Homo sapiens: one gene and its partners. The protein of the gene in region 7 purifies or fractionates together with the protein of the main gene of each other region. This does not show direct contact. Each region holds a gene or a part of one and is shown on either strand. Other genes may lie near its edges.

Region 1 (4,010 bases), on a different chromosome or scaffold from region 7:
GAGACTGACCTTTACATTTAGTTTGTCTCATTTTCTGTTCTCCATTAAGTTTTTTGTTTTTGTTTTTGTGGTTTTTTTTTGAGACAGTTTCTCACTCTGTTCCCCAGGCTGGAGTACAGTGGTGCGATCTCAGCTCACTGCAACCTCTGCCTCCCGGGTTCAAGTGATTCTCCTACCTTAGCCTCTCGAGTAGCTGGGATTACAGGTGCCCACCACCACGCCCAGCTAATTTTTTGTTGTTGTTGTTTGTATTTTTAGTAGAGATAGGGTTTCACCATGTTGGCCAGACTGGTCTTGAACTCCTGACCTCAGGTGATCCGCCCACCTTGGCCTCCCAAAGTGCTGGGATTACATGTGTGAGCCACCGCGCCTGGCCATGTTCTCCATTAAGTTAGAATCTCCTGTGACATCTTTTTTTTTTTTTTTTTTGTTTGAGGGAAGGTCTTGCTCTGTCGCCCAGGCTGGAATGTAGTGGTGCAGTCACTGCTCACTGTAACCTCGAACTCCTGGGCTCACGGGATCCTCCCGCCACAGCCTCGCTAGTAGCTGGGACTGCAGGCACACACCTGTAGTCCCAGCTATTTGGGAGGCTGAAGTGGGAGAATCGCTTGAACCCAGGAGGCAGAGGTTGCAGTGAGCCGAGATCAGGCCACTGCACTCCAGCCTGGGCAAGAGAACGAGACCCTGTTCCAAAAAGAAAAAAAAAGATAATACAGTGTTTCCATTGTTAATCAATGCACGGTCTAGAATCTTTGATGGAATTATGGACATTGCAAACACTTTCCAGAGATCTATACTCACCACGTTCAAAAAGCAGGCTTCTGTTCTAAGCAGGTGGGGGTAGGAAATCTCTCTTTCTTTTAATATAGTAAATGTTTGATCAGCGATCTTATATTTAATATTTGAGGTACTTGAATTATTATTATTTTTTAATCCTCTGAATGTATGTAAACAGTTAAATCTTAATGTAAAGCCCAATGTAACACTGTGAGAGTAAGTGGAGACTGAGCTGTGTAGCTCCGTCTCTTCTGTTGAAACTCTTCAGGATGGATTTAGTGCGTGTTAGGGCTCAGGGAGGACAGGTTGAGGGTTAAGCATCCCAAGCATATGTTTATTTCTGGCTGAGTATTTACAGGGCTTAAAGCCTATGCATTTTGTCTTTCCGCCTAGGACAACAAAAGTAAAACCAGCATGGGTTTTGGCTCTCACTGTTGTTTTTGCCCTCTGTAAGGTTATATAAAAAACACAGAGAAATTAAACTACGGGAAAGAACATCAATATAAGCTGACCGTCACTGCCTATGACTGTGGGAAGAAAAGAGCCACAGAAGATGTTTTGGTGAAGATCAGCATTAAGCCCACCTGCACCCCTGGGTGGCAAGGTGAGCTTCATTCTCTCCCCTGCGCTCACATCTGCTCTTAAAACTGATGTATGCGGCAGCAACCTAGAGTGTGTGTTTTCCTTCTCTCTTCCCCTGCTGACTTGTGGACCAACACAGGATGGAACAACAGGATTGAGTATGAGCCGGGCACCGGCGCGTTGGCCGTCTTTCCAAATATCCACCTGGAGACATGTGACGAGCCAGTCGCCTCAGTACAGGCCACAGTGGAGCTAGAAACCAGCCACATAGGGAAAGGCTGCGACCGAGACACCTACTCAGAGAAGTCCCTCCACCGGCTCTGTGGTAAGGAGACCAGGCGTTCTTGCATCCGGCTGGCTTTGGTGAAGGTGGGAGGGACCTTTACAACTGGAAATACTTGTGTGTGTTGTGTTCATAATTATAAACTGTGACAGAGAATCTGCATTTCTGAAGTGAACTTTGCTGCCTTGCTGGCTAGTTTTCATACTGGATGGGCTTCGGGGGTGGGGCAGGGGGTGGACATCAACTCCTAAACGTCTATTCAACATGTTGTGTATATGTGCATTTTAAGAACCACTGGTGGCCAGATGTGGTGGCTTATACCTGTAATTCCAGCACTTTAGGAGGCCGAGGTGGGAAGATCACTTGAGCCCAGGAGTTTGAGACCAGCCTGGGCAACACAGCGATACCCCATCTCTACAAAAAATTGAAAAATTAACTGGGGATGGTGGCATGGACCTGTAGTTCCAGTTACTTGGGAGGCTGAGCGGGAGGATCACCTGAGCCCGGGAGGTTGAGGCTGCAGTGAGCCGTGATGGCACCATTGCACTCCACCCTGGGCAATAGAGTGAGACCCTGTTTTAAAAAAAGAACCACTGATTTGAAGGAAGTATTTCTCCAGCATACTCTGAGAATCATCCAAAAAGGGCTTCTATAGGAGTACATGGAGTGAGTTTTACATGAAATGAGATGTTTACTTACGAATTGAAGACAAAGGCCAGGGCATGGGGGCTCATGCCTATAATCTTACCACTTTGGGAGGCCGAGGTGGGCAGATCACCTGAGGTCAGGAGTTCGAGACCAGCCTGACCAACATGGAGAAAACCCTGTCTCTACAAAAAAAACAAAAACTAGCCGGGCATGGCGGTGCACGCCTGTAGTCCCAACTACTTGGGGGGCTGAGGGAGGAGGATCGCTTGAGCCCAGGAGGTGGACGTTGCAGTGAGCCAAGATCACGCCGCTGCATTCCAGCCTGGATGACAGAGTGAGAACCTGTCTCAAAAAGAACTGAAGGAAAAATATAGGTAATACAATAGCTTTTGACAAACATGAAGTAGAAAATCAGAACTAAAGATAGCCACATCTAACTTAGAATCTCAATAGATTTTCTATATCACAATATTGTGTGGAGAAATTGAGAGACAGAATTACTGGGAAACCCACCAGAAGGCTAGGTCTCTCTTTACTGTCAGCTGCGGATATTTTTCTGGTTTATCTAAATGAAGAAGAGGTGAGGTATGGATGGCTGTCATGGAAGATGTTGAGGGAAGAACATTTAGTTGACTGGTGATAAAATCCCACTAAATGAAGCAGCGTCTTCATAAATTGGAAGGGTCTTTTGTGTTTCAAAAAGCTTTTGTGAAACAGCTTTTCAGGGAGCATTTTCTTAAACTGATGAGTCTTTTCACTAGCCTGATAACAACCATGAGATTTAGGTTACTGGTTTTCTTTTTTTTTTTTTTAGACAGAGTCTCACTCTGTCACCCAGGCTGGAGTGCAGTGGCGCCATCTCGGCTCACTGCAAGCTCCGCCTCCTGGGTTCACACCATTCTCCCGCCTCAGCCTCCCGAGTAGCTGGGACTACAGGCACCTGCCACCATGCCCGGCTAATTTTTTTGTATTTTTAGTAGAAACGGGGTTTCACCGTGTTAGCCAGGATGGTCTCGATCTCCTGACCTCGTGATCCGCCCACCTCGGCCTCCCAAAGTGCTGATTGCAGGCATGAGCCACCGCGCCCGGCCACTGGTTTATAATTGAAAATTATCCAGATCACTTGAGGTCAGGGGTCTAAGACCAGCCTGATCAACATGATGAAACCCCCGCTCTACTAAAAATAAAAAATTAGCCAGGCGTGGTGCGAGGTGCCTATACTCCCAGCTACTTGGGAGGCTGAGGCAGGAGAATTGCTTGAACCCAGGAGGCTGCAGTGAGCCAAGAGTGTGCCACTACTCTCCAGCCTAGGTGACAAAGCTAGACTTTGTCTTAGAAAAAAAACAATAAATAAGAAGAAAATTATCATGTGGTAAATAAACCAAAGTAGAAAACTAGACATTATGCTGCCACAGTCCAATGATGAGCATATGGGGGTGTTTGGCAACTCTGAATCCAAATATTCATAATTGTCACCTAAATATATTTAAGTAAGGAGGTCTGGCACATTTTCTGTTTTAAACCATGCATGTAAGTATAATATATAAAATTTATTCCGTCTCTCATTTCATGGTATTAAGTGAATTTTTTTTCAGCAGAATAAAGTTAGGAAGAATAGAAATAATTTGAGTGCTTACTATGCACCAGGTACTTTTTTTTTTTTTTTTTTTTTTTTTTTGAGACAGTCTCCCTCTGTCGCCCAGGCTGGAGTGCAGTGGCG
Region 2 (4,010 bases), on a different chromosome or scaffold from region 7:
ACAAATTTTCAGTTTATTCTTAAATTCTTAGTGTATAATTTTTTCAGGTTCTATGTACCTTAGCTTTTCCTAAATAACATTCTGAGCTCTATAAACATATGGTATGGATTTATCTGGTAAAAAAAAAAAAAAAGATATAAAAGCAAAGACTACCCCATATTTTTAATTGACAATAATAGTACATATTCATGGGATATATAGTGATGTTTTGATACATATAATGCAAGCAAATACCCTGATCTAATCACTATACTGCATATTTTATATGCAATTGGATAATACAATGATTTTCAGCCCTGATTCTACATCAGAATTGCCTTTGACACTTTTTATGAACATATTTTTGCAGATTTCATTTCTGAACATTATGTTTTGATGGACCTAGGTGGGGCTGAAGTATCTGACTTTTTTTTAAACTACACAGGTATTCTGATTTGCAGCCAGAATTAAGAATGGCTAGCTTAAACGTTTTTTTTGCTTGACCCCTCCTGGCTCCATGAGACTCAGCAATACATCTAAAAAGAAAAAAATCTACTTCCTTACTCCTAAACTTATCTATAATCAAACCTGGACCGCATCTGCCAGTTTTTGTGCAGTGCACACAATTGCCAGCCTAAAACATTATATAGCAAGTTCTTAGGACTGTTACTCAGGGAATGCCCAAGATATATATGCTTGGCCCCTATGTGTCCTAGGAGTTGCAGGCAAAGAATTATTGCACAATTGCAAAATAATTGGTATCACAAGGCAAGTAGTAATCATAATGAACCTTTTCATGTATTTTAGTTCGTGTTGAGTATAAACTGTCTGATTTAAGATCTTCTACCTTCCTTCTATCATTATTCCAAACCTTTGAAATATTTACTGGCAAGTATATCTTTTTAAAAAGCTACTGTACAATGAATCCTCATCTCTTTCCTATTTCAGCTACATTTTTTTTCCTATCCCTGAATAAATTTGCTGGGATTTTTACTTTCCACATCAGAAAATGAGACATAAGTTCCTGACATTCTAAAATTAACACAACCTTTTAAAAAAATCTAAAATTAATTTTAAGGAGTTAATTATCATTTAAAAGAGCTGGGCCACTGCATCTTAAGTAATACTATTATCATTATGTTCCATTATACTCTCATTCTAGCCACAGTCACAAAAATTTTTAAAAATCGAATGGCAAAGTTTTTTTTCAGTCTCTTTGCCCCTGTTCCACCATGATGCATATTTGTTATAACACTTGAAATAATTCTAAAAATCCTGATGATTCATTTTACTTGTAGAGTTGAGCTGTACCTTTTGAGTGAATTCCTAAGCTATGAGATTAAGTAAATGGAAGCAAGCTTTAGTGTAGTAAAATACAATGAAGGAAGGTAATAAAAATTTCTTCATTACCTTTATCTCTGGAAGCAAGCTTTAGTGTAGTAAAATACAATGAAGGAAGGTAATAAAAATTTCTTCATTACCTTTATCTCTCTTATGTCTCAACTCTTCAAAAATCCATTCAAATAGTTTTTTCATGCCATGTATGTATTTTCTGTCTTTACATGCTTTAAGTAATTTTGTGTATACCATTGGTTTTAAGTTATAACAAGTTAAATTACAAGAACTTTAAGGAAGAAGCAGGACCTGTTGCCTGCTTTTGCATTTTTGCCTAGTGTGTTTGTTTCTGGAAATATGTCTTCTCATTAGTTACATTGAATACTTGTTTATATATCAAATACATTTAATCATTTCATTGAGTATATTGAATATATCAGTTGTATACTTGCCAACAAATGATTGTTTTAAAATTTTAGATGATATTGGTGCCCATATGAATGTAGGAAGAACTTATAAAAATTTAAATAGAACCAAAGAAGCTGAAGAATCTTACATGATGGCTAAATCACTGATGCCTCAAGTAAGTTGCCATAATTTATCTATTGTGTCATATCTATTAGATGTCCATATTGAATAGAATTATCTAGAAGGAAAATCTTTATCTTTTCTTCAGTTAGTTGATATAAAAGTAAGTTTTATAAAGAATTACATTTTTCTAGCTTACTTAATTTTTTTTTTTTTTTTGGAGACGGAGTCTTGCTGTATTGCCCAGACTGGAGTGCAGTGGCACGATCTCAGCTCACTGCAACCTCTGCCTCCCAGGTTTAAGTGATTCTTCTGCCTCAGCCTCCCAAGTAGCTGGGACTACAGGTGCCTGCCACCACACCCGGCTAATTTTTGTATTTTTAGTAGAGACAGGGTTTCACCATATTGGCCAGGCTGGTCTCGAACTCCAGACCTCGTGATCTGCCCACCTCAGCCTCCCAAAGTGCTGGGATTACAGGCATGAGCCACTGCGCCCGGCCGTAGCTCACTTAATTTTAAAAATTGTTTTTATAGTCCATTTGTAAAAACTAAATTCATAAAGTATGAATTTTAGATATTCTTGATTATGAGTTATCAGCAAGTTAATGACTTTAAATAAATATAATTTTATTTATGTATATTAAGCATACAGTTCAACATTATTCCTATCAAAAAATAAAGTGATAAAATTAGTAGATACATCTCTTACTATATTGTGTCCATCAGTTGTTAGAATAAGATTCATTAAATATAAGGTAGTATCGAAATTGGAAGATCTTACCCTATGTCAATTTTCATGTTATCAGCAAAATATTTCTGGGTTGTGACCGTAGGATAGTTAATTTATTCCAGAATACTAAGGACTCACTTGTCTGGTGAAGTTTGGAAATTAAACAGTCTGATTATTAAGTTAAGGTTTTTATAATACATAGTATATATGGATCGAGACTTCCAGTGAACACAATAAATTAGATATGATAAAAACCAATAACAAATACAATTTAACTGTTACAGTTAAGGATTAAAATAATCCTTAAAATGTCATACAGTTCAACTTTAAAAAAAATTAACTATCCTATCACTATTAATATTACTATAAATATTATTACAATTGAGAAAACTTCAGCCCAGCTTAAGCTATTTTTTCTGAGGACATAAGACTATGCCACTAATTTTACCACTTTGTTAAAAATAAATAATAAAAATGTAAAAGAAAACACACACAAAAATGTGAATAAAAATATTTTACTTACAGTATCCTCAAAAATGTAAATAAAATAGTACTTTGTGGCATTAAGGATATATTTTTTCATTCATGCCACCTCAGTGGATTATTAGCTTTTTATTTGTATCTGTCTTTTTCTGAAGTCAAACAAATCAGAACTTTTAGAAGTCAAGGTATCTTAGGTTTAGTCAAAACAGGAGTAGAACCCTGATCTCTCAGTCCAGTGTATTTTTTACAGTATGTTCTGAGTTATTTTGAATTAGCCAATAGGAATATGTACTTTTGATTTTTGATACTGAAATATCAAATCATGAAAATGCCTTTTCTTCTAAACAGATTATTCCTGGTAAAAAATATGCAGCCAGAATTGCCCCTAACCACCTAAATGTTTATATCAATCTGGCTAACCTGATCCGAGCAAATGAGTCCCGACTGGAAGAAGCAGATCAGCTGTACCGTCAAGCAATAAGCATGAGGCCCGACTTCAAGCAGGCTTACATTAGCAGGTATCCCAGTTCAACTTTAAGCTATCATTATGGAATATTGAAACTGCATCTCCATGTACATTTTGAATGAATTGGTTTTTTTTGAAAAAAAATTATGTTTTTAATAATCTTACTTAGCAACCAAGTGCATAGAAGAGCATAACTTTTTAGACTGACAGTCAGATTTTATTGATTTGAAATTAACAAGGGGAATCCCTAACTTGTAATAGCCAACTTAGGTTTTGTATTAAGGAAAGGGTAGAAGCAGCTCTGTCTTAGTTGCATTTTCTTCCCATCACCAAAATTGTTCTTTTCCTATTTAAATTAAAACTTGAAACTTACATTTTATAATAGTTACTTCTAATATCAAACTCTCAGGAACTTTCTTGTTTTTAGAGTTGATTGGTTATTGATGCCTTTGACACAAAGAAAACATCTTGGTTCTCAGCAAAAAAAAA
Region 3 (4,010 bases), on a different chromosome or scaffold from region 7:
TCCATCTTATAGGTAGATGATAAAAACTTGAAAATGATCAACAAGGCTACAATCTAATAACAGATGTACTATAGTTTTTCTTTAGGAACATATTTTTTCTCTCTATAGTCACCCCCATTTCTACCAAAGATAATCAGGGTAAGTGGGAGGCAGAGGTCACAGTGAGCCGAGATTGCACCACTGCACTCCAGCCTGGATGACAGAGCAAGACTCCATCTAAAATAAAATAAAATAAAATAAATAAAATAAAATTCAGACTAATTTGCTTGCAGAAAATATTTAGTCACATCAGACTTGGCCTAATTATTTACATAAGTGTGGCAAGAATAGTGATTGACCACGTAGGCTCTTCTTAAGTTTGCTTTGCTAGAACTTATCGATAAGGAATCTCAGATTGGACTTTTAACAACTTCTCAAGGCTAGGAAGTCAACCCAAGCCCAACTTCAGATTTCACCTGCAGTACCTATAGATTCATCATAGGTATATTCTCAAGTATGGCATCACACTCAAAACCTTGGTAATATGACCAGTGTTTCCTATTGTATCCTGTTGTAAAGAGAGCAGATACTTATTGAACTTATGCAAATAACAGTATTGCCATAAAAATAGGAATATTCACAAATAGTTTCTGAATTCCAGAGAGGTCTTGTAGGGAGAAAATGTTTCCATTTTTGTTCACAAGAGTATACTTACCAAATTGCTGTAAACTATAGATAGCTTAAAAGAAAATAAGTTTTCTTAAATCTGGACAACAAAACATTAAAAAGAACCAGCAACGTTTCAAATTTAAAAACCAGAAAAACCCATAATTCTTCATTAGTTCATTTAGTCTCATGTAATTAATTCTTGTTGTGCTTGATCTTGGTTATCAGTTTTGCAGACCCATCAGTTTTTTTCATTAGAGTTCTGGAAATTCTTTCCCAGTCCAATCGTATTATCTCGAAGTTATCAGAAATGGTACTTATCAGAGACGTTTCCGTGGATCTCCTTGAAGATGAAGCACTTCAGGATTATAGTTGCTTAGAAAAAAGCTTTTAGAAAAACATCAGAATAAAGCAATTAACTGTAGACAATAAGACTTAAAATGGTTGTGGTTAAAGATCTGATGAGAGTTCATAGTAATAATGACACAATTGACAAGGAAATCTGGTTATTGCTGTGCATACAACATTTTAACCTAATAACCAAAATTAAGGCTGATAATGTATCATATTTCTAGGAATATCATATAATTTTGGGGATACACCTTAATAGCAAGTATAAACATACATCAATAAATATAACTCAAAGAAGATTAAACATCATTTCTTGTTTGACAATGCTTCCCATATAATTAATACATCAAATGAGCCTAACTAGTTTAGTATCTCCCCTTTGCAGAATCTTTGAGATGTTCCAGGGCCCCCTGAAATGTTCCAAAGTTACTTCAAGTTCAGAAAGCCTTAATTTAGAATTTGATTTTGGGAAGTTTGTACAAAATGTCAAAGGTTTAAAATTAAAACACTTAATCAGCCTGGGCATGGTGGCTCATGACGGTAATCCCAACACTTTGGGAGGCCGAGGCAGGAGGATACCTTGAGCCTAGGGGTTCGAGACCAGTCTGGGCAACATAGGAAGACCCCATTTCTATATTAAAATTTTAAAAAATTAGCCAGGTGTGGTGGTGTGCACCTGTGGTACCAGCTACTTAAGCAGCTGAGGTGGGAGAATTACTTGAGCCCAGGAGATTGAGGACAGGTGAGCCACGATCGCACCACTGCACTCCAGCCTGGATGACATAGTGAGACCTTATCTCAAAACAAAAACAAAAAAGCAAAACAAAAAAAATCACTTGATCAAAATAGGATCACAGGTCACTGTGAAGTCACAGTCATTCATCTAACCAGAATGATAATTAAAAGACTTCAAAATGAAAATATAGAATGTTACATTGTTGCAGAAAAAACAGCTCTTTTATAGAGAGGACTCCATTTTCTTAAGTAATCAAGGACCTAGTAAAGACAACATGAAGCACAGGGAATCATCTTGATGAAACAAAGGATCTTTCTTTAGGAGAATTACCTAAAAGGTACAGAAAAACCTTTCACTGTTTCCTTTTAAGAACAGATCAATACTTCAAGAAAACCTTGTTTTAACAGAGAGGACCAAATTCTGATTTTTCATCAGTGTACTTTTGATATTAAGGCTCATCAAAAAAAAAAAAACACAAAAACTATAAGTTAGCCCATTCGACCACACTTGAAGTTCTTTTCTCTTCACAACTTCCTTGTATCCATTGGTTTGTCCTGTACTGTTCCTCTTTCTCATTGTGAAATAACCAGTCACTCTACTTTAGAACAAAATGACTCTCTTTTTCCCTTAATTAAAATACATCCTTACATTTTATGACTTCCTTTATAAACCGTGCCATACTTCCCTTGCATACAGAATTATGTCCCTTATTATTTTTAGTTTTAGTTGCTTATATTAATTAGTTTTTACTCCTTAGTAATCTTAATTTCTAGTGAAAACTAGCAAGCATTGTGAACTGTCTTCTATTAACATTCACCATTTCATAATTTCTAGAAACATGTTTCCTCAGCTTTTCATGCTTATTACAGACCCAATTATATTCTCTATGCCATACAAAAACAAGATGCCAAAGCATATATACTTTAGACTTATGTTCAGCAATTAATGTTTCAGTATTTTAATTTACTTAGAAATGATATTTTATGAATATCTATGACTTAATTTAACGTAAAATAACCGTAAGAGGAGGCTGGATATGTGGACAGGGGCCAAATGAAGAACTGCCTTCTGGTTGTAGATTTTCTTCTAAAGTCAGTTAGAGCCCCCAGAGAATGTTGAATAGAGATTGACATAATCAGATCCACAGAAAGAAAAGATCATTTGGTGGCTAGAGAGGGCAGTGAGGGGTGGAGCACATTAGAACCTCACCAGGAGAGAAATAATATGTTGATGTTTCTCTGGAAGCCCTGCCATGAGAACCTGTACTAGCTCATGGGACACGGAGGGTAGGTTGGAGGTGAGGTCAGTAAAAAACCAGATCACGGGTTCATGCCAACCTAGGACAGGCATGAAGAGATGGAGGTTTGGGTGAGGGAAGAGACTTCAGAGGAGAGTGGACAGGATGTGGAGGCAGGTGGGGATCAGCAATCCCCTGGTAGGGGCAGAGGGATTGCATCCTGGGCCTGGCATGCAACAGGCCCTGACCATACCTGCCTTTGTGCAGGCTGCCTTGCAGGTGAGGTTTAAAGCCAAAGGATGCACCCCAGCTTGCAGATACTTGGATAGGCTCAAGTTGCTATCCTTGTGTGCTAAGGGAGTCAAGAAGGCTCCCCAAAAAGTGTGTGGTGGGGGGGTGTTGAGGAGGTTGGGGAAATGGCATCATAGGATGTAGCTCACCTCACTCTGCTAAATACTTTTGACGTCTGACTCTGGTAAATACCTCCATCTACTTCCTCTTCCCAACCCCCCACCCACCTCCCTCCTTCGAGGAGTCCAGAAGCTACAATGCCAAAAGCAGACTACCAGCAAGAAAGGTGGGGGAAAGAAGGGGGTGGTGTGGCCACAGGCCTTCCTCCCAGCTCGCAGAGCCCCCTCCCTTGTATCAGCCCCAAGAAGGGCCAGCTTAGTTGCCTTCTTTCCAGGGATGCGTCAGGGTGTGCCAGGCTCTTCCTGCATCTGTCTCGTGGAGGTGAGGGTAACACTCCTTCCCCAGGCGTAACGTGTTCTTAGGAGCTCTGATACCTTCTGAAATTGTGTTCTTCTGAGACGTCGTAAGGAGTAAGTTCTAGGGTGGAGTATTAGGGTGTTTTTGCATTGATAAAAGTAAGTACCTGAGGCTAGGTAATTTATAAAGAAAAGAGGTTTAATTGGCTCAGGGTTCTGGAGGCTGTACACAGCATCTGCTTAGCTTCTGGGGAGGCCTCAGGGAGCTTTTACTCATGACAGAAGGCAAAGCAGGAGAGGAAGCAGGAGGGGGTTGGGAAGTGCCACCCTATTT
Region 4 (4,010 bases), on a different chromosome or scaffold from region 7:
GTCAGGCTGCTCTTGAACTCCTGATCTCAGGTGATCCACACGCCTCGGCCTCCCAAAGTGTTGGGATTACAGGCATGAGCCACCACGCCCGGCCACCCCTATCATTTTCATCACTCCAAAAAGAAACCCCATACCTTTAGTAGTCTCTCCCATTTCTTCTGTCTTCCATCTCTGGCAACAACTATACTTCTGCCCATGGATTTACCTATTCTGGACGTTTCGTGTAGGTGGAATTATACAACATGTGGCCTTTGAGGTCTGGCTTCTTTTCATTTACCATGATATTTTCATGGTTCATCCATGTCATAGTATGCATCAGTACTGCATTCCTTTTTTTTTTTTTTTTAAGAGATAGAGCCTGGCTCTGTCGTCCAGGCTGGAATGCTGTGTGGCAAGATCATGGTTCACCGCAGCCTTGAACTTCCAGTCTCAAGTGATCCTGCAGCCTCAGCTTCCTGAGTAGCTGGGACTACAGGCATGTATTACCTGTATTACCACACCCAGCTAATTTTTAAATCATTTTTTGTAGATTTGGGGTCTCACTATGTTGCCCAGGCTACACTCAAACTCCTGGCCTCAAGTGACCCTCCCGCCTCGGCCTCCCAAAGTGCTGGGATTACAGATGTGAGCCACTGTACCCAGTCTGCATTCCTTTTTATGGCTGAAAATAACATTCCATTGTATGTCTATACTGCATTTTGTTTATCCATATATTTGCTGATGGACACTTAGGTTATTTCCTGGCTGTTATAAATACTGCTACTATAAACATTCATGTACAAGTTTTTGTGTGAATGTAAGCTTTTTGGTTCTTTCCCAGATATACCTAGGGATGGAATTGCAAGGTCATATGATAATTTTATATTTAACTTTTTGAGGAATTGCCAAACTTTTCCACAGTGGCTGCACCATTTTACTTCCCAGGTTCAAGCAATTCTCCTGCCTCAGCCTCCCAAGTAGCTGGGATTACAGGTACCACCAGCAAGCCCAGCTAACTTTTGTATTTTTAGTAGAGATGAGGTTTCACCATGTTGGCCAGGCTGGTCTCAAACTACTGATCTCAGGTAATCTGCCTGCCTTGGCCTCCCTAAGTGCTGGGATTACGGGCATAAGCCACTACGCCTGGCCTAAAATGTTTTTAAGAAAGGTTGTGTGAGAAGAGAACAAGAGGCACATTATATAATGTTAAAACAGTCAGTTCACCAAGAAGACCTAACTATATATGCACCAAGCAACAGAGCTTCAAAATGTATGATGCAAAAACCAGCAGAAATAAAAGAAGAAATAGGCAAATCTGCAATTGTAGTTAGATATTTTACTACTCCTCTCTCAGTACTTGACAGAATAGTGGGTAGAAAATCAAAAAGAATACTGAACAACACAAAACTACACAACACTGTCAACCAAGTAGATCTAATTGACATTTGTTTACCTAATGACAGCAGAATACACATTCTTTTCAAGTGCACATGTAAATTCACCAAGATAAACCACATTCTGGGTCATAAACCAAATAGTAAACTTTATATATAAGAAGAACACTTCTAAACAATCCATGGATTAAAAACTCTCAAAGGAAAGCTTTGAATATTGTGAACTAAACCAAAATGAAAACTCAACATACCAAAATTTGTGGGATACAGCCAAAGACATGCTTAGATGCATTAGCTGCCTTAATTAGAAGAGAAGGTCTCAAGTGAATAATTTAAGCTTCCACCTATGAAACTAGAAATGAAGAGCAAAATAAACCCAAATTAAACAGAAGAAAGAAATAATAGAGAACAAAAATCCATGAAATAGAAAACAGAAAAAAAAGAAAAAATCAGTGAAACTCAAAGCTCTTTAAAAAAAAAATCAATAAAATTGTAAACCTCTAGCCATACTGGCAAAGGAAAAAAAAAAAGGAAAACAAATTACCAATAGTAGAAAAGAAAAAAAGGAAGACAAATTACCAATATTAGAAAAGAAAGAGGAGATAACCACCGTAGACTGTACAGGCATGAAAAGGATAATACAAACAGCTCTACAGATAGAAATTCATCAACTTAGATGAAATGGACCAGTTCCTCAAAAACCACTGTATTAGCTTTCTATTTCTCCTGTAATAAATTACAAATGTAGTGACTTTAAAACAAAAGGTTTTTATTTACAGTCCTGGAGACAGAAGTCTGACATGGGTCTTACTGGGATAAAATCAAATTGTTGACAGGACTTGCATTCCATTGTGGAGGCTTTAGGAGAGAATCTGTTCCTTTTCTTTTCCTGCATCTAGAGTCTGCCCACATTTCTTGGCTTGTGGCCCCCTTCCGTTTTCAAAGACAACAAGTCGAGTTGTTCTCACATCTTACTCTAACTTCCTCTTTTGCCACATCCTTCCACATTTAAGGACCGTTGTGATTACATTGAACCCACCCAGATTGTTTTTTTTTTTAAGTTCAACTGATTATTAACCTTAATTCCATCTGCTACCTTAATTCCTATGTAACATATCTTTACAAGTTCTGGGGATTAGAACATCAGTATCTTGGTTGGGTGGGAGGGGGTCATTATTCTGCTGATCACAGCCACAAACTATCCAAACTCACCCAAGTAGAATAATATTTCACCTTTTACGTCTGGCTTATCTCACTTAGCATAATGTTTTCAAGGTTTATTCCTGTGTCTTCGTTGCTTTTTTTTTTTTTTTTTTTTTTTTTTTTTTTTTTTTTTGAGTCTGAGCCTCACTCTGTCTCCCAGGCTGGAGTGCAGTGGTGCGATCTCAGCTCACTGAAACCTCCGCCTCCTGGGTTCAAGCAATTCTCCTGTCTCACCCTCCCGAGTAGCTGGGATTACAGGCGTGTGCCACCACGCCCGGCTAATTTTTGTATTTTTAGTAGAGACGGGGGTTTGCCATGTTGGCCAGGCTGGTCTTGAACTCCTGACAGGTGATCCGCCCGCCTCGGCCTCCCAAAGTGCTGGGATTACAGGCGTGAGCCACCCCGCCTGGCCCTCGCTGCATTTTAATAAAGATACAAAAGCTAATTCAAATGGAAAAAGGATATTCTTTTCATCAAAGACATGAACAATTTAACATTTACATGGAAAAATAAAATCCTCAACCTTTACCTCATATTTTATATAAAATTAACTCAAAATGGATCATACATCTGAGTATAAAACCTGAAACTATAAAACTTTTAGAAGAAAACAGATCTTTGTGACCTGGGGTTTGGCAATGAGTTCTTAAGACATGACACCGAAGGCACAGTGCGTAAAACAAAAATTTGATAAATTGGGCTTCATCAAAATTAAAAACCTTTGTTCTGTAAAAAAAAATTCTATTAGGAGCATGAAAAGACAAGCTATACACTGGGAGAATATATTTGAAAATCCGGTATCAGAAAAAGAACTTGAATCCAGAATATATAAGAAAACACAGCAGTAATTTAAAAACTCAATTTTAAAAGGGGCAAAAGATTTAAGTAGGCTTAAATAGACATTTCACCAGATAGGATACAAGGATGGCAAATATCCCCCTGAGAAGAGTTCAGCATTGTTAGCCATTAGGGAAATGCAAATTTAAGCCATGATATTGCATATTAGAACAGCTAAAATTTAAAAATACATAGTGATAGTACTAAGTACTGGCAAGGATGGGAACAGCTGGATCTCTTAGCAAAATGGTGCAGCCACTCTGGAAGACAGGTAGAATCTTAATCATACATTTACCATGTACTCAACTGTGTCATATCTAGATACTCATTCTAGAGAAATGAAAGCTCATGTTCACATGAAAACCTGCAGACACGTGTTTTATAGTTTTGTTTATAGTTGTCAAACCTGAAGACAATCTAAATGTCCTTCAGCAAGCAAATACATAAACAAATTGGTTGTTATTCAGAGGAATAATAGGAATAAAAAGAAATGAAGTATTGATATACAAATGTGTTGGGGAGTCCTATAACCACCCATATGCTTGAAGATTTACTAGGACTTATATGATTCACTGTATAGTTGTACTCCTCCTAAGA
Region 5 (4,010 bases), on a different chromosome or scaffold from region 7:
ATTTTATGTGGTGTGTATTCTACCACACTGGGGCAGGCCAGGTGCAGCGGTTCACGCCTGTCATCCCGGCACTTTGGGAGACAGAAGTTTTGGGAAGATCAGTTTGTGAGATGACACTCTGACAAAGCTGGAAGCTGTGGCTCTTCCCAGCTCCCGACTAGAAAGAACACAAAGCAAAGAGCCCCAGGAAGCAGGTACCCACAGCCTTGTTTATCAGGGAGTTTGAGATCAGCCTGGGCAACATAGCAAGACCTCATCTCTACAAAAAATACAAAACAATCAGGCAGGCGTGCAGGCTCACGCCTGTAATCCCAGCACTTTGGGAGGCTGAGGCGGGCGGATCACAAGGTCAGGAGATCGAGACCATCCTGGCCAACACGGTGAAACCCCGTGTCTACTAAGAAACACAAAAAAATTAGCCGGGCGTGGTGGCGGGCACCTGTAACCCAGCTACTTGGGAGGCTGAGGCAGGAGAATGGCGTGAACCCGGGAGGTGGAGCTTGCAGTGAGCCGAGATGGCGCCACTGCACTCCAGCCTGGGTGACAGAGTGAGACTCCATCTCAAAAAAAAAATAAAAAACAATGAGGCAGGCGTGATGGTGTGCACTTGTAGTCCCAACTACTTGGGAGGTGGAGGTGGGAGGATTGCTTGAGCCTGGGAGGTTGAGGCTGCAGTGAGGGATTTTTTTTTTTTTTTTTTAAGACGGAGTTTTGCTCTTGTTGCCCAGGCTGGTGCAATGACGGGATCTTGGCTCACGGCATCCTCCACCTCCTGGGTTCAAGTGATTCTCCTGCCTCAGCCTCCCGAGTAGCTGGGATTACAGGCATGCGCCACCACGCCCGGCTAATTTTGTATTTTTAGTAGAGACGGGGTTTCTTCCTGTTGGTCAGGCTGCAACCTCCATCTCCTGGTTTCAAATAATTCTCCTGCCTCAGCCTCCTGAGTAGCTGGGATTACAGGCACCTGCCACCATGCCCGGCTACTTTTTTGTTTTAGGTAGAGACAGGGTTTCACCATGTTGGTCAGGCTGGTTGACCTCAGGTGATCTGCCCGCCTCGGCCTCCCAAAGTGCTGGGATTACAGATGTGAGCCACCACGCCCGGCCTGCAGTGAGCTTTGATTGTACCACTGCACTCGGGGTGAGACCCTGTGTCCAAAAAAAAAAAAAAAAAAAAAAAGTTGAGGCAGTTCCCAGATAAACAAAACAACAGGCCAGGCACTGTGGCCCACGCCTGCAATCCCAGCACTTTGGGAGGCCGAGGTGGGCGAATTGCCTAAGCTCAGAAATTCGAGACCAGCCTAAGCAACATAGCCAAACCCCATTTCTACAAAAAATTTTAAAAGTAGCTGCTTGTGGTGTCGGGCGCCTGTGGTTCAGCTATGTGGAAGGCTGAGGTGGGAGGATCGTTTGAGCCCTGGCGGCGGAGGTTGCTGTGAGCTGAGATCGCGCCACTGCACTCCAGCCTGGGCCACTGAGTGAGCTTCCCTCTCATAAAAAGAAAAAAAAAAAAACAGGCTGGGCGCGGTGGCTCACACCTGTAATCCCTGCACTTTGGGAGGCAGAGGCGGGTGGATCACGAGGTGAAGAATTCAAGACCAGCCTGACCAAGATGGTGAAACCCCGTCTCTACTAAAAATGCAAAAATTAGCAGGGTGCGGTGGCGGGCACCTGTAATCCCAGTACTCGGGAGGCTGAGGCAGCAGAATCGCCTGAACCCAGGCGGTAGAGGTTGCAGTGGGCCATGGGCCAAGATCACACCACTGCACTCCAGCCTGGGTGGCAGAGTGAGACTTCATCTCAAAAAAAAAAAGAAAAAAAACCAAAACAAAACACCAGAAGCTGGCGGCACTCCTGGGCGCCCAGCTGTGAGTGGAGTCTCCCTGTCCCGCCTTTGGGCCTTACCCGTGCTGCGCCTGCTGCCTGCATCCCCCTTCCCTGGGTCTCCGCACGTGGGCCCTGCCTCATTTTCCCGGTCCCAGTTTCTGCGTCACCTCCTGAGAGGGGCCTCCTGTCAGCTTCCACGCAGCTCTGTCACGGGTAGATTCTCTCACGAGTGGAAGTGGCTCTCAGCTGCACTGGAATGTCCGGTCCACACGGACGGGGCCTCGGCTGTGCTGTCCACCCTGTATTTCCAGTGCCCAGTAATAGGTGCTTAGAAAATACTTACTGAATGAGTAAGTATACAGTTGTACCAGGCAGGTGATGTTATTATCCTTTTTTTTTTTTTTTTTTTACAAGGAGTAAACTGAGTCACAGAGAAGTGATGTGACTTGGCCAGGATCATGCAGCTGGTCGGGGTGGAGCCAGGCTTTGAACCTGTCTGTCCTGCTCCAGAGCTGGTATTCATGACGGGTGTGCTGCAACCCCCTCCTTCTCACACAGAGAACCAGATGGTGTCTGTGTGTTACGCGCTGGACACCTAATTCACGATCCCCGCCGAAAACCACTTCGGGAGCATTATGAATTCCATTGTGTCCTCCACCCCCAAGGATAGGTTGGGATCCTGAACCCCCATCCCTCAGCATGTGACTTCATTTAGAGGTGGGTGTTTACAGAGGTCCTGAAGTGAAAATGAGGTCATTAGGGTGGGCCCTAATCCAGTGACTGGTGTCCTTATGAAAAGGGGAGATTTGCGCACAGAAACAGACGTGCTAGCTGGGCATGGTGGCGCATGCCTGTGGCCCCAGCTACTTGGGAGGCTGAGCAAGAAGACTGCTTGAGCCTGGGAGGTTGAGGCTGCAGTGAGCAGTGATTGCGCCACTGTACTCCAGCCCAGGTGTCAGAGGGAGACCCTGTCTCAAAGAAATATAAAAAATAGGCCAAGTAGACTGAGTGTGGTGGCTCACGCCTGCAGTCCCAGCACTTTGGGAGGCTGAGGTAGGTGGATCACGAGGTCAGGAGTGTGAGACTAGCCTGGCCAACATGGTGAAGCCCCGTCTCTACTAAAGATACAAAAAATTAACCCGGTGTGGTGGTGGATGCCTGTAGTCCAGCTACTTGGGAGGCTGAGGCAGGAGAATTGTTTGAACCTGGGAGGCAGAGGTTGCAGTGAGCCAAGATCGCACCATTGCACTCCAGCCTGGGTGACAAGAGTGAAACTCCATCTCCCCCCCCCAAAAAAAAAAAAATAGGCTGGGGGCAGTGAAATTGCAGCACTCTGGGAGGCCAAAGCAGGAGGATTGCTTGAGTTCAAGAGTTTGAGACCAGCCTGGGCAACATAGTGAGACCATGTCTGAAAAATCTAAAATTAAAAAAGGAAAAATGAAAAAAAAAAAAGAGACAGCTCCAAAGGGAAGAGGAAGGGAAGAGGGAGAGAGGAGATGGTCACCTGTGAGCCAAGGAGAGAGACCAGAGCGGATCCTCCCTGAGGGCCCTGAGAGGGAACCAGCCCTGCCCACACCTTGATCTGGGACTTCCAGCCTCTGGGACTGTGATTTTTTTTTTTTTTTTTGAGATGGAGTTTTGCTTTTATTGCCCAGGATGGAGTGTAATGATGCGATCTCGGCTCACTGCACCCTCTGCCTCCTGGTTTCAAGCGATTTTCCCGCCTCAGCCTCCTGAGTAGCTGGGATTACAGGTGCATGCCACCACGCCTGGCTAATTTTGTATTTTTAGTAAAGACGCGGTTTCTCCATGTTGGCCAGGCTGGTCTCAAACTCCTGACCTCAGGTGATCTGCCCACCTCGGCCTCCCAAAGTGCTGGGATTACAGGCGTGAGCCACTGTGCCCGGCCAGGTCTGTGAGGTTTTAAACCACCTGTCTGTGGCACTTTGTTACGGAACCCGAGCTGAGTGGTACAGGGAGGAAGGCCCTGTGGTTCAGCGCATTTTACAGCTGAGGAAACTGAGGCTGCAGTCTCCATCTGTGTGTCCTTTGGTTGCTTGTATGAGTGAGGTGGCAGGTTTGGGAATGAAACCACGCCTGCGGTGCCGGGGCTCCCACCGGTAACCTCCCGTTTTTGGCCTCGGGGCTCCGGCAGGAAGGAGTCCCAAGGCTTAGATGGAGGTG
Region 6 (4,520 bases), on a different chromosome or scaffold from region 7:
CATACAATGCTCCTAACTAAAGCCAGCCCCTCACCTCAGCTCAGGATCCCATGCCTCCCACCTTTTCAGGAGCTTTGCTCCTGCAATGATCATTCCTCTCTCCTGAACCACCAACTCTTCCCTCTAAATGGGATCATTCTCCAAGCTAAGGGGGGAACTCCCCTTCTTCCCCCATGTCCTCCTATAGCTACTAACACATTTATCTGCTGCCTTTCAAAGCGAAACTGCATGAACTTATACAACCCACTTCATTGGAGTCATTTTTTCAAAATTATATGGAAAGGAAAATGAACGAGAAAAACCAAAACGATTCTGAACTATAACTTTGGGGAAATCACACTACCTAATTTCAAGAGTCATGTTAATTCTATAGTAATCCAGGGAATGTGGTACTGGGGAAAAATCAACAGATCAGAATGGAGTCCAGCAATAGGTTCACAGACATGATAAACTCATTTTCAAAAAAGGTGCAAAGGCAATGGAGAAATATTATCTTCTTGAGAAATTGTGTTGTTTTCTCCCTTGCTTCTTGGCCACGACATTCATTGTTCTTTACTCCCCTGGGTCCGTTCCCCGTGTTTCTCCTTTGCAGTTCAACTGCTCTTCTGTTTAACTGTCTGTCTGCCCCACCACAGTGTGGTAGCCTCCATGGGACATACCACGTGTGGTTCCTTGGTCTTCACATTTCCAGCATCCCAGATATTTCCTGCAACATGGCAGACACCCATGCATATATAAATGAGAAAGAAGTATGTATGAATATATATAATAAAATAATTTATTTCTGTCACAAAAGGTCTGAGACACATCCTCCACTCATGGTGACATGGGACTGTCCCCAGTGTTTCTGGATGCATGAGAATGGTAGGGCAAGAGAGAGAACGAAGCCTCTTAGTCCCTTTCCTTCTACTACAAACACCTTAGGGATGCGAGCCTGGGGAGAGAGGGAAAACCCCGGGTGGCCTTGCATGTGCCTGACTCAGTGTGCACGTCCCTTGCTGCCCAAGTCCCTTGTCCATGTGCCTTGCTGTCCGCCTTCTGTCCCTGCAGAGCTGTGCAAGGAGACATCATGACTTCCTTCTGTGCTGCTGACTAGGAGTCAGCCAGTAAGTCCGAAGATCAGTCTTCCCAGAGTTGAAGTGGGAGAGACTGTGAGGAGGAGCCCGCGGCGCGGTCTATGGCCTCCGACGGGGAGGTCCTTGAGGTTCCTGTCCTTCTCCTAACAGGTGGTGACACAGCCATGGCCTTGCTGTCGTGGGGGTCCCAGACAGGGGAGGAAGGAGGGCCATAGAGGGGAGGAGGACCTAGTGAACATGGAGTGAGTTTTGAAGGGGGAAACTATTTGTGGTATTTGAGTCCCGGAGGCATATGAAACCGCCCACAGAAGACACATTCCGAAGTCTTCAGTGGGAACCTGGGAGAGGGTAGAGAACTGCGCGGCGCGGCATGGGGTGGGGCTAGGAGAGGCGCCACAGCCCACTAGGCAGGCACCGACCTCACTGCGCATGTCCACTGGGTGTCTTCCCCTCGGCCCCTTTTCCCACGTGGTGAATGCCCTGGAGTTGTGAGGGTGTGAGGGTCGCGTTCCTGCTGTCTGGACTTTTTCTGTCCCACTGAGACGCAGCTGGTAGGTCCGCAGGCCAGTCCTCCCAAGGGTTGAAGTGTGAGTGCGTGTGAGGAGGAGCCAGTGGCTGTCCGGAGCGTGGGAAAGCATAGCCCGTGGCCTCAGAGGCCGAAGGGTCTCAAGGTGATCGTCCTTCTCCTCGTGAGGTGGCACTGCCATGGGCCTTGTTGTGGTGAAGTCAGAATGAGGGAAGAAGGTGGGCCGCGTAGTTGAGAGGGGTCAGGTGAAAATGGGGCGAGTGCTGGGGGTGCTGGGGCAGGTATCCGAGTCCCTGGAACCCTCGACCGAGGACGGATTCCAGACTCCTCCGTGTCGACCCGGGAAGGAGCAGGGTGGGCATTAAGGAAGGGAACTGGGAACGCTGCGGGTTGGTGACTGTGGCCCTGAGGTCTGTAAAGCGCCTGGCAGAGGTGTACAGTGAGGAGGGCCCAGAGCTGTGTGGCAACTTCTCAACTCCACTGTGGAGGTTTGAATGGGCGGGGCTCTGCATTCCAACAAAACTTGATTTTAGGGGGGAAATGGGCCCAGCAAATGGGTGTGTGACAAAAGCCGTGGTCACTGCAGTTTTAATTCTCTGGCTGTATTTTCCCAAATGTCTCCACGGAGGAGAGTTCAGTTGTGAAACCAAACCTCATCGGAAATATCCTGTCTTTTGCCAGGAGCCTTAAGAAATTGCTCAGCTAGCTTGACCAACTTAATGGCTTCCCAAGCATTCAGAAGGCACACATACTTACACTTGCCCTGAGACTTAGTTCGAAAGTATTTACAAACTTTTAAAAAATGACAAGTTAATATTTGGTCATGGAAGTGGTCAAATATAGCTGTCTTTTCAAGTGCATTTACCAATTCACAGTATTCTGTTTGCAGTGTGAAATATGATTTGGCGAGGAAGATCAACATATAGGCCTAGGCCGAGGAGAAGTGTACCACCTCCTGAGCTGATTGGGCCTATGCTGGTGAGTGCCTTAACCTTTGATGTTTTCTATTAGCAGAAAGTTATTTTTGTAACTTGTTGTTGTTGCAAAACTATGTTTTGTAATTGTTGTTGAACCAGTATAGATATACCAATAAAGGTCTCCCATGCTGAGAAAAATAATCATGGCATCTCATGAAGGAAAGACTAGTCCAAGAGGATTAAGTTCTTCTGTTGTCTGGATGGATGATCTTGTGTTCCCCAGATTTTGCCCATGATTTCCTTCTCATGCTTATTTGCAAAAGATTACACACATTCATCCCAGCTTAGATTAAAACAGCTTCCAAAGCCCTTGAGGGCAACTGTCTTAGAGTAACCTCTCTGTGGGAAGAGTAACTTTATGAAAAATAAGTATGTGGAATCGTGTTGGAGAAATGTCTTTAGACTTATGATCAGAAATATCTATGTATTCTGTATATTTGTATTATTGAAATGTATCGATAACAAAACTTTTTATCTGCACACACACACACACACACACACACCCCTGGTTCCAGGAGCCCGGTGATGAGGAGCCTCAGCAAGAGGAACCACCAACTGAAAGTCGGGATCCTGCACCTGGTCAGGAGAGAGAAGAAGATCAGGGTGCAGCTGAGACTCAAGGTGCTGGGAAGGGAAAGAAAGAATGTCTATGGGGAGGGGAGGAGGCCTATGTGTGCATCATGCCTTATGCCATGACCAGTAACAGGAGGAAAGAAAACATTAGGAAAGGATCTCAAACATTTGCTGAGAGTTGGCTGGAAAAGTGAAGAGTATAGTTTGCAGCTTCATGGATATAATGAATCTTCTCTTACCTTTGAAATATATTTCGTATGCTTGAAAATACAGTCCTTGCTAAATCAGATGAAACTGTTTAATTTGATGTACAAAAATATACATTATTTCACTAGTTTACTTTGATCTTCTTAGAATGTTGTTGTCTGATCTTCTCAGCCAAGGTGTCCACAGTATTGTATGCACCCTTTAATAGCATGTAGAATGCCAAGTCACCCTACCTGAATACACTGAATAAAGCCCATTTGCATAAGGATGTTAGCCCCATTTTATAAATAAGAAAACTGAGGCTCTGAAATGGAGGCTTACCAAGAACAGTTGAGTCATGGAGAAGGAATTCATATTTCATTCCAAGGTTTGTGTTCTCCCTACCATTCACATTAGAAAACGTGAATGATTTTGCTTGAAATGTTAATACTCAAATGTGTCTGTACTGTAAGTACTTCAGTATTGGCTCAGGACAAAACAAAGTTCAGTGAAGCAGGATAGCAACGCCAGAAAAGAGCTCAATGAATGACAGCCACTCTTTCCTTTGCTTTGTATTTTTGAAAGTATGTTTGGTAAAATCTGGATAATTCAGGACATTGGCATACAGGTAGCTATATTAGTATGATTTTAAGGGGCTTTTAAAGAGTTGTTTATATACTTTTATAATTAGAAAACTCGAAGTACGATAAGATTATCATGAAACAGAAATTATTTCCTCAACAGAGAGCATTTTGAAGTTAAACATTGACAGAATTTGGGTCATGGGTTACTTTAGCAATTCACTGTTAAGGGGTTTCCAGAATATGACTGTCAACAATGCCCATTAATTTTTTTTTCACTCAAGTTTCTGTACTCTTGTGGAAGACAGCGATTTTGCTGTTATATTCGGTATTTTTTTGTGAATGGGATTCATTTATGGAAAGTTACATATAGGGCCTTTGGACCTAAGTTTGTTTAATTTTAACCAAAAAATTTTCAAGTTACCTCAACAGGTGATGAGTGTCAGGACTGTAAGATTTGTCATAGGCTCACCAATATATTCATCTAATCTTTCAGAAAATTACATTTAAGTTATTATTAAAATGCTATCCATTGGGCAGTCTTTAGGTTTCCTAGATAGCTGACACTCACTGTTTATAGTACACAATGGTAAAGTATAGG
Region 7 (3,674 bases):
AATTTGTAATTCTCCTTAAAAAATTAAGTTGGTGAGGTGATGGCTATCTTAATTAGCTTATGTGTTTCTCCCATGTGGATATCAATCCAAACGTCACATCATACCCTACAAATATACAGAAAATTATTTTTCAATGAATAAATAAATAAATTTGAAAAAAATTAAATGAGGAATTCAAATATAGAGACTCTCCAAGGGCCCACTGAGCCCCAAAGGATTTGGATCAAATATGGTGATATTATGGAAATATGTAGTAATATCTTAAAAATGTGTAAGATATAGTCTCTTTTTTTTTTTTTAAGAGAAAGGGGTCTCACTATGTTTTTAGGCTGGTATCGAACTCCTGGTCTCCAGTGATCCTCCCACCTCAGCCTCTCAAATAGCTAGAAATATAGGCATGTACCACCATGCTGGCTTAAGATGCATTCTTTGACACAGCAATTCTATTTCTATAAGTTTATCCATATAGGTAAGAGAACATATATACAAGATAATCACTGTAACTTTACTTATTACTGCAAAAGTTTAAAAATAACCAAATTGTAATAATTTTATAATATTTTATCAGTACAAAAAATAAGTGATGGCATATACAAACCCTGGGATAGTATAAGGCTATTAAAATTATAATAGCATTCCATGTATTTTGATATACAAAGTGCCAATGTTACAGGTGAAAAAAGCGAAGTGCAGAATACTATGTGTAACTGTTAATAGTGATGGTTTGCTGGGTCAGAACTGAAGGCCTGGGGGTAGAAATGAGAGCTCATGACTTCTACCTTTTGAATGTTGTTCCTTGTGCATGATTTACAATTTTCTAAAACTAAAAAAAAAATCTCAGAAAGGGGCTGTACGCACCTAAATTACTTTGATATTCCCCAAAGTGGAGAGAAGTACCCGCTACACATTTTATGTGATGCATTCAGATCACACCAACTCCTTGAACTAAATCCGAATTTTTATTTTAATCTGATAAACTTGGCCTACTATTTTACTGAACTCATTTCCCCTATAGCCTGATAAGGTCATTGACCTCTCCATACTGGCACCAGCGGGAGACTACTCACCTCGAGATCTCAAAAGCCTCCTACATGAGGTTAGTAATATCCCTGAATCCTGCAATGAATTAACTCTCTACTCCACTGAGTCCCAGGTCTGCCCCCAGAGAGTCATCCAGAGAGTACCAGGGACCATCTTCAGAAAACAAGAGGCATTTGATCCCCAAACTTCTTGAATGAAAGCGCTGTTGTTTTTCTTTTTTGAATATATAAAAGTAAATACTCAAGCAGATGGGAAACAGAACAGGATAGTAATACCCTTATCATCATTAACACCTTGGATCAAGAAGAGGCATTAAGCATACAGACTCACGCTTTGATGAAAGCTGGGAGAAAGAGGAGCATCAAAGGGATCTTGAGAACAAAGGCAGTCCTTCCCCTCCCAATCACATGCCCACCTCCTCTCACTGCAGCTTCTGTCTCAGGTCTTCTCCCAGCAGAGCTATAAATCCAGGCTGACTCCTCACTCCCCACATATCCACTCCTGCTCTCCCTCCTGCAGGTGACCCCAGCCATGAGGACCATCGCCATCCTTGCTGCCATTCTCCTGGTGGCCCTGCAGGCCCAGGCTGAGTCACTCCAGGAAAGAGCTGATGAGGCTACAACCCAGAAGCAGTCTGGGGAAGACAACCAGGACCTTGCTATCTCCTTTGCAGGAAATGGACTCTCTGCTCTTAGAACCTCAGGTAGGAGACATCAATCTTGCACATCTGCAAAATCTAGAAAAAAAGGATTGGAGAAAGGATCTGGAGTCAAGTGTGGAAAGGTCTACCTCACTTGAGTGACTTTACTTAATCTTCCTGGACCTTGATTTTCTCATCTATAAATTAATCAGTGAGAACCAAATAAATCTAAAAGATTTTCTTTTTTCTAAGACTTTCAGTTCCAAGATATTTCTGTGAAATTTGCTACTTTTAAGATAGAAAGAGCTACACTGACTAGTTCTTTGTAGATCTAAATGGGCAGACTTAGTTATATAGAGAGTGTTTTACTTTGTCCATTGGAAAAGCTTTTAGAACCTAGAGAGGAACCTATAGGTGTGTTTTGATGTAGGCTAATAGGCTTGATTAAATCTTTCTACAATACATCCTTAGATCAAAACATCATATTGTGTCTCATACATATACACAATTATTGTTTGTCAATTAAAACAAGTAAATATGTAAAATGTTAAAAAAAAAAAAAAAAAAAAAAAAAGGAGAGACAGAGAATGAAGAATTTGAATTTGGAAAGTCTTCAAAGACTCCTTGAGCACCAAAGTATTTGGTCCATGACATTAGCATGCACAATGCGGCATTTCAGAAACTGATTCAGGTGCTTTAGGGAGCCTTGTTAGGACCTGGAAATCACACATGGAGGTCAAGATTAGGCGTGTGGATGAAGCAGAATGAAGAGTAGGTAACCCTGAGGTTGAGAGGTATATTGTTGGACCAGGGAGCAGGTAATAAATACATCCTGGATAGACTCACATGGGGAAAAAAACTATGATCTTGCATGACTAACACATAGCTAGTAAGATTTCTTGTCACTTACGACAAAGACATGAATTTTCTCCATCCTAACATGACTGATACAGTGTCTCTTATTTAGACTATCTCAGTTAGTCTGGCTGTGCTTGTCCTTTTTCCCACCTCCCTCGCTGTGCCTGACCCTCTCTTCTTTCCACAGGTTCTCAGGCAAGAGCCACCTGCTATTGCCGAACCGGCCGTTGTGCTACCCGTGAGTCCCTCTCCGGGGTGTGTGAAATCAGTGGCCGCCTCTACAGACTCTGCTGTCGCTGAGCTTCCTAGATAGAAACCAAAGCAGTGCAAGATTCAGTTCAAGGTCCTGAAAAAAGAAAAACATTTTACTCTGTGTACCTTGTGTCTTTCTAAATTTCTCTCTCCAAAATAAAGTTCAAGCATTAAACTTAGTGTGTTTGACCTTTTTAATTTTCTTTTCTTTTTCCTTTTTTTTCTTTTGCTTTGTTATATGGTGGTTTGTATGGTTCCTTTGTATTGAGAATTCTGATCTACATTAAGTTAACTGGTCTTTGCATTCCAATGATGCACAATTTGAGCATCATAGAGCAATAACAAAATAACAAAAATGAATATAATTGGGTTTTTTATTGTTGTTGTTTGAGACAGTGTCTAACTTAGCCACCCAAGCTGGAGTACAGCGGTGCAATCTCGGCTCACTGCAGCCTTGACCTCCTGTGCTCAAATGATCCTCCCACCTCAGCCTCTTGAGTAGCTGGGACTACAGGCATGTGCCACCACACCCTACTAATGGTTTGTATTTTTTTGTAGAGACAGGGTTTCACCATATTGCCCAGGTTGGTCTCGAACCCCTGAGCTTAAGTGATCTGCTCTCCTCAGCCCCCCAAAGTGCTAGGATTACATGCTTGAGCCACCATTCCTGACAGGATATAAGTGTTAATTGGAATAGTTTGAAACTTAAAAATTCAATGCATTCCTAATGATACTCAAAAAGTAGAAGTTTACAATGAGAGGCAAAAAGTGGTTGTTGGCTCAAAGGAAAGATAGATCTAATGGGCTATGTTTACTTGTCCTTTAATTTTAAAAAGTGGGAAAGCATTGCTATACATAATTTTTGAAATTTTAAGCAGATGTG

Evidence for each region.
Region 1: the proteins of DEFA5 (region 7) and CLSTN1 purify together in Homo sapiens (co-immunoprecipitation; 3 studies listed by BioGRID and IntAct, with this or other methods). This does not show direct contact.
Region 2: the proteins of DEFA5 (region 7) and TMTC3 purify together in Homo sapiens (co-immunoprecipitation; 3 studies listed by BioGRID and IntAct, with this or other methods). This does not show direct contact.
Region 3: the proteins of DEFA5 (region 7) and QSOX1 purify together in Homo sapiens (affinity purification with mass spectrometry; 2 studies listed by BioGRID and IntAct, with this or other methods). This does not show direct contact.
Region 4: the proteins of DEFA5 (region 7) and MCMBP purify together in Homo sapiens (co-immunoprecipitation; 3 studies listed by BioGRID and IntAct, with this or other methods). This does not show direct contact.
Region 5: the proteins of DEFA5 (region 7) and RDH13 purify together in Homo sapiens (affinity purification with mass spectrometry; 2 studies listed by BioGRID and IntAct, with this or other methods). This does not show direct contact.
Region 6: the proteins of DEFA5 (region 7) and XAGE3 purify together in Homo sapiens (affinity purification with mass spectrometry; 2 studies listed by BioGRID and IntAct, with this or other methods). This does not show direct contact.

What each region holds. Positions count from the first base shown.
Region 1 is NC_000001.11:9,747,135-9,751,144, reverse strand, and holds part of CLSTN1 (calsyntenin-1 isoform 1 precursor), read left to right. Parts: intron 1-1,231; coding exon 1,232-1,381; intron 1,382-1,498; coding exon 1,499-1,684; intron 1,685-4,010. UniProt on the Homo sapiens protein: Postsynaptic adhesion molecule that binds to presynaptic neurexins to mediate both excitatory and inhibitory synapse formation.
Region 2 is NC_000012.12:88,187,050-88,191,059, forward strand, and holds part of TMTC3 (protein O-mannosyl-transferase TMTC3), read left to right. Parts: intron 1-1,793; coding exon 1,794-1,897; intron 1,898-3,403; coding exon 3,404-3,573; intron 3,574-4,010. UniProt on the Homo sapiens protein: Transfers mannosyl residues to the hydroxyl group of serine or threonine residues.
Region 3 is NC_000001.11:180,160,942-180,164,951, forward strand, and holds part of QSOX1 (sulfhydryl oxidase 1 isoform a precursor), read left to right. Parts: intron 1-4,010. UniProt on the Homo sapiens protein: Catalyzes the oxidation of sulfhydryl groups in peptide and protein thiols to disulfides with the reduction of oxygen to hydrogen peroxide. Plays a role in disulfide bond formation in a variety of extracellular proteins.
Region 4 is NC_000010.11:119,862,428-119,866,437, reverse strand, and holds part of MCMBP (mini-chromosome maintenance complex-binding protein), read left to right. Parts: intron 1-4,010. UniProt on the Homo sapiens protein: Associated component of the MCM complex that acts as a regulator of DNA replication.
Region 5 is NC_000019.10:55,049,233-55,053,242, reverse strand, and holds part of RDH13 (retinol dehydrogenase 13 isoform 1 precursor), read left to right. Parts: intron 1-4,010. UniProt on the Homo sapiens protein: Retinol dehydrogenase with a clear preference for NADP. Oxidizes all-trans-retinol, but seems to reduce all-trans-retinal with much higher efficiency. Has no activity toward steroids.
Region 6 is NC_000023.11:52,865,113-52,869,632, reverse strand, and holds the start of XAGE3 (X antigen family member 3), read left to right. Parts: upstream 1-1,549; 5' UTR 1,550-1,627; exon of another isoform or gene 1,628-1,820; intron 1,821-2,331; exon of another isoform or gene 2,332-2,383; intron 2,384-2,477; exon of another isoform or gene 2,478-2,491; 5' UTR 2,492-2,499; coding exon 2,500-2,580; intron 2,581-3,094; coding exon 3,095-3,200; intron 3,201-4,520.
Region 7 is NC_000008.11:7,054,596-7,058,269, reverse strand, and holds DEFA5 (defensin alpha 5 preproprotein), read left to right. Parts: upstream 1-1,530; 5' UTR 1,531-1,572; coding exon 1,573-1,744; intron 1,745-2,726; coding exon 2,727-2,839; 3' UTR 2,840-2,966; downstream 2,967-3,674. UniProt on the Homo sapiens protein: Host-defense peptide that maintains sterility in the urogenital system.